Regions from separate parts of the Homo sapiens genome. Here region 2 is linked to region 1. The links come from fine-mapping of genetic effects on plasma protein levels. A gene starts in region 1. The other region holds a variant in brackets. All regions are shown on one strand. Distances are from middle to middle.

Region 1 (5,345 bases):
CTATGAGTGTGGGCCTTGTGCTCCCTGTCCCCCACCCCATGGGACCACCAGAAGTGAGCTCTCCGAGTGCAAGGGGCCTGTGAGGTGCGTACTCCGCAGCAAACCCTCCCGGAAGCTTGGCTGAATAGATGCAGAGACCACATGTGGTTGAGGGTTAACCACCCTCAGATCCTCCCAGGCCTCCCTGGCACTCCCCAGTGCCAGGAACCTGGGAATACCAAGAGGCCAAACTGGAATTGGAGCTTGGCGAGGGCAGCTTCCCTTTTTGAGGTGTACATTTGGGGACCGAGACAGAGGGGATGCACGTGGGGACAGAATGGGGCTGAAACCGCAGAAGCCAGAGATGTTGCTTCATATGTCTGGTGTGGCCTGGAGTGACAAGGGAAGGACAAACCACTCATGGTGCCATGCGGTACCAGGATCTCCTGTCGGTGATGCAGGACCCAGGAGCCCTGACTCAGGTGGAGGCCGGACTCCCTACCTCACCACGTGTGTCCAGAAGGTTGCCCTCTGCGGCTAGGGCTGGGCAAGGGGCAGCTGTCCCTGGAAACTCCAGCAGGCCTCGCTCCTCTGCCCAGTTTGGGCTTCAGAAATCTCCCCTAGCACTGGGCAGAGGAGAAATTGAAGGATTGTCTCTTCCCTGGGAGGATCTCCCACAGAGTTTCCTGGGGCAGGCAACAGTTTCCTCGGTGAGGCAGTGGCCATTAACCCATTGTACAGATGCAGGGGTTGAGGCTCAGGGAGGAGGGACTTTCCTAGGCTTCAGGGATTGGTGGTGGCTGGGTAAGGGCAAGAGCCCAAGCCTGGGGCATAGAGATGCCTGGATGGCAGGATCTGCTGGGGAAACTCTGCCTTCAGCCCAGACTTCCCTGGGACAGTCACAGGCCACTCCAGCCTACCTGCGAACACCTGGCAGGCATCTCTCTTTACAGCTGCCTTGAGGGGACAAGCACGCTGGGTCCACCCCCTGCTGGTCCAGCCAGGTGATCAGCATTTCCCAACTTCCTGACCCCAAGACAATGGAAAATGCTAGGATAGCAGGAACAGATATGGGTTCAAATTCTGGTTCTGCGGTCACTGATTGTGTGGACTGGGCTGACCACTGGTCTCCCAGATCTCAGGTCCCCAGAGATAACAAGAACCCTCATCAAGGGTTGGACAGGTCAAAGAAGGATCAGATCAGCCCCAAAGCCTGTGCGGGGGTGCCATGGTACCGAAGGGACTTTGAGGCCCATTTCCTTCCCCTTGTGATAATGTCTCTCGTGATAAGGATCCTGGAGTGACTCAAGCCCCTGTTTCCTACAGAGCCTGTGGGGTGGACACGCATAGGAAACTCCTTCCAGAGGGTTTTCTCCTGTCTCTGTAGGAAGGGGGGCCCCAGAGGGGTCATACCACCCATCGTGGTCCCCGCCTCTGCCCTGCCACAGCCCCATCGGAGCCCCTGAGTCAGCATGGCTGGCTATCGGTTGACACTGTTTAAAATACAGTGCAATCTAGGAATGCCTGCCTGTGTCATGGCCTCAGCCCTGATGTCATCTTTCCATGAGAAAGATGTGTGGCTGCCCACAAACCTCATCACCAAACCCATGGATTTCTGTCCTGTTTGTGCTGACTTGGGCACCTGCAGGCCACCACTGCCGAAATGGATTTCTTATTATGACTCTTGCTTTCCTCCTTTCCTTCCCTCCTAGGCCCTTGGCCACTGGCCTGTTACTTGCCCATCTGTTATGTCCCAGCCCTTAAACACAGCTTTGCTGGCCCTCAGCTCTTCTTCCTGAATAACTTCCGTGGCCTCAGCTACCACACAGACATGTACCGCTGCCAGATCTGTCTCCTGTACATGCAGACTCTGAAACTCCAAAACTTCCCGTGGGCCTCACGCTCTGAAGATCTGCTCCTTTGTCCCCTGGGTCCTCACCTTAGCCATGTGGACAGTGATTCTAACTCCTCTTACTCACATTCAAAGCACACTTTGGTGGGGGGGGAGGGGGGTGAGTAGACTAATCTTGCTCCTCCATGGATGGGGTTAAAAAGTCCTTGGAGGCAGGACCCTGACCGTTTTTGTCATCCTTATGTCCCTTTTCCCTGCTGGGAACCTAGTAGATGCTCAAAAAATAATGAATGACTGAGTGACTTCACTATAGCACCAAGTCCTGTTGAGATTCTACCTCCTCAATCTCTCTGGAGTCTGCCTGCTGTTCCTTATACCCATTCCTAAAACCCCAGGGCTCCCTGTGCCCAGAACATTCTCCCCTGTCCTCTCCTGCCCCTCTCCTTCCAACCCAACGTACCCACCTGACTTCTAGCCTTTCAGCCTGGGCTTGCAGGCAGGATCTCTAGTGAAGCTCTCTGGTCCCCTTGGATCCCCAAGCTAGAGAAGGTGGCCCTCTGGGATCCCTCAGCTCTGGACTTCCCCCTGCCGAGTCAAGGTCACACCATGGGAGGGTCCATTGCAGTCTGTTTCCTACCAGACTGGGAGCCTCAAGGGCCAAATGTGAGGGCCAGTGGGAGGGTCCCGTTTACCTCCCCAGAACAGGTCCTGGTGTGGATTGGAAAGACTTGTTGACTGACTGTCTGAGCTATGACAACTCATTTCTAGGAGGAAAGTGACCTTCTCTCCCAGATGGGTCATACAGGCTCTCTGCCTCCCTGGCCATCAGCTGAACCACTATCTATGGCTCCCTTCCCTGCCCTCCAGCCTCCAGGGTGCTATCCAACACATGTGATATCTACATGTAGTATCCATGTCCTCATCTCTCCCCCGAGAGCTCCCTGGAAAGAGCTGAGCCAAGGCCTTGCAAAAAAGGTGGAGAAAGGGCCAGGGCCTGGACATTTCATGTTCCCACCCCAGCCTGGCCACTAGGAGTGTTCTACGCAGGCTCAGATGGATGGGGCTGGCCTCACAGTGGGGTCTGGAGGACTAAGGTTTGGTTTCTCTATGCAAGGTCAGAAAAACTCCCACAGTACAGGGAAACTGGCCAGGGCTGCAGACTCAGACCACAGTGCTAAAGCCATGAACTCCACCTGCTCTCTGAAGGCTCGCCAACCTGAGTCCAGCAGAATGTTCTCGCTTGTGTCCAACCCCACTGGTTTAGGCTGAATCAGCCTCTAGGGCCCAGAGGCACTGCACCTGGAGTAGGGAGCTTCTCCAGTATCAGAGTCACCTTCAGAGGCCTGGAGCCTTTCATAAAGCAGGTAAGAGGACTCAATAGATGCATCTGCATGGAAAACATCCTCCCCTCTACCAGGCACCTGTATGTACAACCAATCACAGCAGCACACATACACCCAGAAATGGGCACGTGTGGGCCCACACCCCTTTAGCTATGAAACCCAGGCATGGGGCAGCTTGAGCCAGATACCTTGTGCAAACACAAACTCGTGCTGTCTTCTCTGAACTCCATTGTGAAAATCAAACACTTGTCAGCCCCTCAAGAGCCTTTAGATTTCCTACTTCCACACTTCCACAGAAAGGCCTCTGGAGTTGGGGGATGCTGGGGTTATGTAGGAAATTAAGCCTGGAGGGCCTTGCTGGGGAAGCCATTGTCCCTGTACCTGAGATGGATGCAGCCACAGCCCTGGAGCCAGCCTGAAGCTCCTGGTGTCTTCTGGGGGCTACATATAGGAGTGTAGTCCGAACCTCAGAGGGGCAAACCTGCTCTGCAGAGGGAATCAAGGTTCACATAACCAGAGAGGGGAGTCACTCAGGAAGGTGGCTCCAGAGCCAAGAGTCAGACTCTGGGTCCCGACTTGACCCAGCCACACCCCCTCTGAAGCTTGCTGAGAGTGGCTGCAGTCTCGCTGCTGGATGTGCACATGGTGGTCATTCCCTCTGCTCACAGGGGCAGGGGTCCCCCCTTACTGGACTGAGGTTGCCCCCTGCTCCAGGTCCTGGGTGGGAGCCCATGTGAACTGTCAGTGGGGCAGGTCTGTGAGAGCTCCCCTCACACTCAAGTCTCTCACAGTGGCCAGAGAAGAGGAAGGCTGGAGTCAGAATGAGGCACCAGGGCGGGCATAGCCTGCCCAAAGGCCCCTGGGATTACAGGCAGGATGGGGAGCCCTATCTAAGTGTCTCCCACGCCCCACCCCAGCCATTCCAGGCCAGGAAGTCCAAACTGTGCCCCTCAGAGGGAGGGGGCAGCCTCAGGCCCATTCAGACTGCCCAGGGAGGGCTGGAGAGCCCTCAGGAAGGCGGGTGGGTGGGCTGTCGGTTCTTGGAAAGGTTCATTAATGAAAACCCCCAAGCCTGACCACCTAGGGAAAAGGCTCACCGTTCCCATGTGTGGCTGATAAGGGCCAGGAGATTCCACAGTTCAGGTAGTTCCCCCGCCTCCCTGGCATTTTGTGGTCACCATTAATCATTTCCTCTGTGTATTTAAGAGCTCTTTTGCCAGTGAGCCCAGTACACAGAGAGAAAGGCTAAAGTTCTCTGGAGGATGTGGCTGCAGAGCCTGCTGCTCTTGGGCACTGTGGCCTGCAGCATCTCTGCACCCGCCCGCTCGCCCAGCCCCAGCACGCAGCCCTGGGAGCATGTGAATGCCATCCAGGAGGCCCGGCGTCTCCTGAACCTGAGTAGAGACACTGCTGCTGAGATGGTAAGTGAGAGAATGTGGGCCTGTGCCTAGGCCACCCAGCTGGCCCCTGACTGGCCACGCCTGTCAGCTTGATAACATGACATTTTCCTTTTCTACAGAATGAAACAGTAGAAGTCATCTCAGAAATGTTTGACCTCCAGGTAAGATGCTTCTCTCTGACATAGCTTTCCAGAAGCCCCTGCCCTGGGGTGGAGGTGGGGACTCCATTTTAGATGGCACCACACAGGGTTGTCCACTTTCTCTCCAGTCAGCTGGCTGCAGGAGGAGGGGGTAGCAACTGGGTGCTCAAGAGGCTGCTGGCCGTGCCCCTATGGCAGTCACATGAGCTCCTTTATCAGCTGAGCGGCCATGGGCAGACCTAGCATTCAATGGCCAGGAGTCACCAGGGGACAGGTGGTAAAGTGGGGGTCACTTCATGAGACAGGAGCTGTGGGTTTGGGGCGCTCACTGTGCCCCGAGACCAAGTCCTGTTGAGACAGTGCTGACTACAGAGAGGCACAGAGGGGTTTCAGGAACAACCCTTGCCCACCCAGCAGGTCCAGGTGAGGCCCCACCCCCCTCTCCCTGAATGATGGGGTGAGAGTCACCTCCTTCCCTAAGGCTGGGCTCCTCTCCAGGTGCCGCTGAGGGTGGCCTGGGCGGGGCAGTGAGAAGGGCAGGTTCGTGCCTGCCATGGACAGGGCAGGGTCTATGACTGGACCCAGCCTGTGCCCCTCCCAAGCCCTACTCCTGGGGGCTGGGGGCAGCAGC
Region 2 (5,376 bases), 1.3 Mb before region 1:
GTTGGTCAAAGGAGATAAAATTTCCATTATACAAAATGAATACATCTGGAGATCTAATGTATAGCATGGTGACCACAGTTAATAATACTGCATTGTATACTTAAAATGAGCTAAGAGAGTAGATCTTAAGTGTTCTCACTACAAAAAAAAGTTAATTACGTAAGATGATAAATATGTTCATTAGCTTGATTGTGGTAATCATTTCCCAATGTGTACACACATCAAAACACCATGTTTTGCACCTTAAAAATATACAGTTGTTATTTGTAAATTATGCCTCAATAAGGCTGGGGGAAATAAATCAGGGGTGAGGCCATAAGCAATGAACAGGAAATATCCCATTTGACTGGCATTAGAAGAAGATAGTGTCACCTGACAATGGTTTAAATTTGCCACTCTCACTTCCAGGCTGTAGTAATTTCTGATGCTAGACCCTCAAATTCTCCCTCTACCTGGGCCAAAGCAACTAGTAACTTTCCAGACAGTGGTTGATCTGTCAGCCTGGGCCCCAGAGTGAGGAAAATGTGGAGCAGAAATGCCAGCCAGGACAAAATAAACACACAGTAACAACATGAAATAAATATTTGTTACTACATTTTAATCCACTGAGATTTGGAAGTTAACATTATTGAAACAACCTAGGTCATGCTGGTTGCGCAATCTCTCATTCTCCAATTATCTTCCTCCTCCTATGTTCCCTCATAAAAGGTGCTCCCAGGCATGCAGGCCTATCATCTTTATTACATTTTTCCCTCCTCCCCATGTCTCTCATCAATCACTAGATTCTATTGATAAATCTTCCAAATTGGTTCTGACAACACTGCGCTGTCTTTTTCATTTCCAAAGTAACTTTCACCATGGTTCTCATCATCTATCACCAATAATGAAGCTATATTTATATCTGGTCTCTAATCTTCAATCACTTATTGTGCAGCCAACATATCCACCTTACTTCAGCACATTTAACATGCATCGTACACAATGGACATTAAGTCATTCAACTACTTGGAACTTTCAGTGTTTTGTTACTGCTAATTAAAAATTCAAAATTTTTAGTTAGAGAATCAAGGCTTTCTATACCATATTCCCAAACTAACTGCTCAGCTATAATTAGTACTCAAATTTATATCTTTTATATATCAGGGGGCTTTTCAATGGAGGCTCTTGAGCTTTTGGAAGAATGTGAATATTGATCACAATCAGTTTTTTAAAAGACTCCACAAATTCAAAGCTCTATAAATGTGCCTACATATTACATGTGAAACTGATAGTATCCAACCATCCATAGAAAAGGCTTCAAAGCTGTGTCCTTTAAGACTCAGACAAAATAAGAAGATGATTCTCCTTGTTAAATCATGACACAAAGCAGCTATAGCAAAGCTCAAACTTAGGAAGTTAATGTTCTATCTTGACATATCTCAACCTCACTGATTTTCTTCACAAGAACTGTCAGTATTTTAAAATATCTTCACTCTGTTTATCAGATTTTCTAGAACTATAACAGTGGCAACTCATTATCAGAGGTGGAGAACTCAGACCTTTCTCTCATTAATCAGTCAACTCAACATGTATTTCATAAGCACATAACACACGCAAGGGACCATGTCTTTTCATATTTGTATCCAAAGCAAGTAGCATCTTGCAAAGAATGACCGTATTAGTCTGTTCTCATGCTGCTGATAAAGACATACCTGAGACTAGGCAATTTACAAAGGAATTAGGCTTAATGGAGAACTCATACCTACACATGACTGGAGAAGCCTCACAATCAAGGCAGAAGGCAAGGAGGAGCAAGTCACATTTTGGATGGATGGCAGCAAGGCAAAAAGAGCTTGTGCATAGAAACTCCCATTTTTAAAACCATCAGATCTCATGAGACTCATTCACTGTCATGAGAACAGCGCAGGAAAATCTGCCCCCATAATTCAATCACTTCCCACTGGGTTCCTCCCATGACATGTGGGAATTGTGGGAGTTAGAATTCAAGATGAGATTTGGTTGGGGACACAGCTAAACCATATCAATGACCAATAAATAAATTCTGATTAATTGCTAAGCTCTGGGTAACACAAGTTGAATTACTCATAGGCCCTACACACAGAGACTCAAATATTTGGGAGAAACAGTAAAAACTACCCACAATGCAAGTCAAAATGGAAATACAAGCATTAAAAATGGAAATACAAGCATTATAAGAGCCTGGAACAAAAAATATATATATATTCTAATTGTGAGAATCCAGGAAAGTTTAAAAGAGAATGTTGCATTTGAGCAATGCCTTCAATATTTTTTTAACTGTAAAAAAATATAGAGAAAGCATTGCAAGTTGAGAGATCAGTATAGCCATATAAGGAAATCTGGAATTATCTAACATTATTAGGAAATAGAAAATATGACAGAATACTAGGTCAGAATACACACAGTGGAGTAGTGGGAGAATTGGCTGAAGAGGTAACCTGAGGTGCTAGCATAAAC[T/G]GCTTTGAATGCCAAACACTTTTGAATTTAATTTTTTAAGCAACTGAACACAGAGCATAGGATAGTAAAAATAGTCTAATATATTTTAGGGAGATAGTTCTGATGGCAGTATCCATTATTGATAATATTTTGAAAGTTATCTCACAGGAGGCTAAATTTTCCTAATGACAATATGTTCACTGTTCATTCTTTCAAGGGCACCTGAATATTTTTCAGAACATTTTGCTCTCCTAGAATGTATCTGGATGGCATTGTAAGGGTGAGCACTTAAGTGCATTTTAATCACATAGTCCTATGTTGCATGCAATTTGGTTCACTTTGTGTAAAATATTTTATGAGAGTTGATAAGAGGCAGATAATCTCACCTCTATTCAACAGGTCTGAATCATTTAAAATGATTAAGGATTAAGAAGTCATTCAATTGTTTCAGTGGATTAAATAGTTCAAGGATGATAGTTACTGCTTTATCAACAGTTTTCCCATTAATCTGTTGTTCCTATGCTCAGCAATGTTCTCTCAAGGCCAAAACCATCTCTTTTGGGTTGGTGAATATAAGCGCCCTCCATTTTTGGCAGCTTTGATCTCAAGCTTCACTGTGATGAGCCCAGCTGTTCACAAAGCTATTTTCATGCTTGCCAGCTTAATATCCTGCAGCACAGCAGTGCAGTGAAGTGAAGAAGGTCCCTTTCTGATTACAGGTATGCAACAAGAGTTAATTATTAGAAATGCTTTCTGATAATACTCAACTGAAATAACAATCTCAAATGATGAAATTTATGAGCAAAAGCTACATTTCTTTCAACATATCTGCAGACAGAGAACAGAGAGTGGTAGCAGGGAAGAATAATTTCTTGTAGTTTCCTAGAGGTGGATATCATAAATCACAGGAAACATTAATTATCCTCTAGCTCCATGAGAATATGGGTCAAGACTCCACAAAGATACAATGAACCAAAAGCCTCAAACCTCATCAGTTTTTTCCGCTTTTATGACTTTTCTAAAAGGTAAGTACAATGTCAAAAAGAATACACCATTTTATAAAAACCACATATGATCTGATTGAGAAAGCTGCATAAAACAATTCAAAATCTCTCAATCAATGTGACATTTAACTTAGCAGATATGGTAGAGAAGAGTAATTAATTGCTTAATCATTTGCAAAAGGACATGTACTTGGATGGAAGAATTTTTGGCAACATTTAAGTAAAAGACACATTAAAAATGGCTGTTCCAATGCCTTTTCCTCTCAAGGAGCAAGACTGCCATTTTAACACCACATTTACTTATTATGATCACATCTAATTCTGCTCTTGTATATGTAAACAAAAGCATTTCTTAGCCTTACTATTTTTAGATTCATGGAAATTTCTTTAGAAAGGACATTTTCAAATAACTTTCAAAAGTTCACCATTATCATAAAGATAACATCTGACTATTAGGTACATAGTAGCCTTACCTGCTTCCATTACTACCATAGACACGCTTTGCCCAGTATTGATTTAATTGATTAAATTCTCAGTGATAGGGACAATGAAGTCCAGGCTGAGGTGGTCTCAGATGGAGATGAGGAACTTGTTGGGAATTGGAGCAAAGGTCTCTCTTGCTATGCTTTAGCAAAGAGACTGGTGGCATTTTGACCCTGCCATAGAGAACTGTGGAACTTTGAACTCAAGAAAGAAGATATAGGGTAATCTGGCAGAAGAAATTTCTTAGTGACAAAGCACAGAGCATTCAAAAGGAAGCAAAGCATAAACGTTTGAAAAATTTGCAGCCTGATGATGCAATATGAAAGAAAAGCCCATTTTCTGGGGAGAAATTCCAGCTGGCTGCAGAAATTTGTATAACTAACAAGGAGTGAAATATTAATCAGCAAGACAGTAAGGAAAATGTCTCCAGGGCATGTCAGAGACCTTCACAGCAGCCCCTCCCATCACAAGCCAGGAGGCCCAGGAGGGAAAATGGTTTTGTGGGCCAGACCCAGGGCCCCACTGCTCTATGCAGCCTCGGGACACAGTGCCCTGTGTTCCATGTGCTTCAACTCCAGCCATGGCTAAAAGGGGCCAAGGTACAGCTTGGGCCATTGCTTCAGAGAGCGAAAGCCCCAAGCCTTGGCAGCTTTCATGTGGTCTTCTGTGGGTGCACAGAAGTCGAGAATTGAGGTTTGGGAACCTCTGCCTAGATTTCAGAGGATGTATGGAAATTCCTGGATGTCCAGGCAGATGTTTGCTGCAGGGGTGGAACCCTCATGGAGAACCTCTGCTACAGCAGTGCAGAAGGGAAATGTGGGGTTGGAGCCCCCACAAGAGTCCCCACTGGGGACTCTCACTAGACCACTCACAGACCACTCACTAGAGGGTCTGTGAAAAGAGGGTCACCATCCTCCAGACCCCAGAATGGTACATCCATCAACAGCTTGCACCTTGCAACTGGAAAAGCCACAGGCACTCAATGCCAGCCTGTGAAAACAGCCAGGAGTGGGGCTGTACCCTACAAAGCCACAGGGACAGAGCTGCCCAAGGTTGTGGGAGCCTACCTCTTGCATCAGTGTGACCGGGATGTAAGACATGGAATCAAAAGAGATCATTTTGGAACTTTAAGTTTTACTGACTGCCCTGTTGGATTTCAGACTTGCAGGGGGCTTGTAGCCCCTTTGTTTGGGCTACTTTCTCCCATTTGGAATGGTCATATTTACCCAATGCCTGTACACCCATTGTATCTAGGAAGTAACTAACTTGCTTTTGATTTTACAGGCTCATACATGAAAGGTTCTTGTCTTTTCTCAGATGAGACTTTGGACTTGGACTTTTTGGTTAATGCTGAAATGAGTTAAGACTTTGGGGACTGTTGGAAGGGCATGATTGTGTTTTGAAATGTGAGGACATGAGATTTGGGAGGGGCCAG

Which allele goes with the higher level. Positions count from the first base shown, and alleles are read on the strand shown. Strength reflects both the effect of a copy and how common the allele is.
With allele T in place of G in region 2, the plasma level of the protein whose gene starts at base 4,402 in region 1 is lower (moderate association).

Evidence for each region. A credible set is the group of variants that fine-mapping cannot tell apart. PIP is the chance, under the fine-mapping model, that this variant and not a neighbour inherited with it causes the effect. Protein levels are from antibody-based Olink assays in UK Biobank. Linkage for the fine-mapping came from a reference panel and not from the study's own genotypes, which makes the PIPs less certain.
Region 2: its variant is the best candidate, but not a certain one, in a credible set for the plasma level of the CSF2 protein (UK Biobank, PIP 0.62).

What each region holds. Positions count from the first base shown.
Region 1 is chr5:132,069,388-132,074,732 of GRCh38, forward strand. CSF2 (colony stimulating factor 2) reads left to right here and starts at 4,402. Exons shown (of 4, transcript NM_000758.4): 1 at 4,402-4,595; 2 at 4,694-4,735. The coding sequence starts at 4,437.
Region 2 is chr5:130,801,506-130,806,881 of GRCh38, forward strand. All of the region lies in intron 3 of LOC107986449 (a long non-coding RNA gene), which reads right to left. Among named protein-coding and RNA genes, the nearest start is that of HINT1, 360 kb to the right of the region's middle. The variant T/G (reference allele first, on the strand shown) is at 2,476.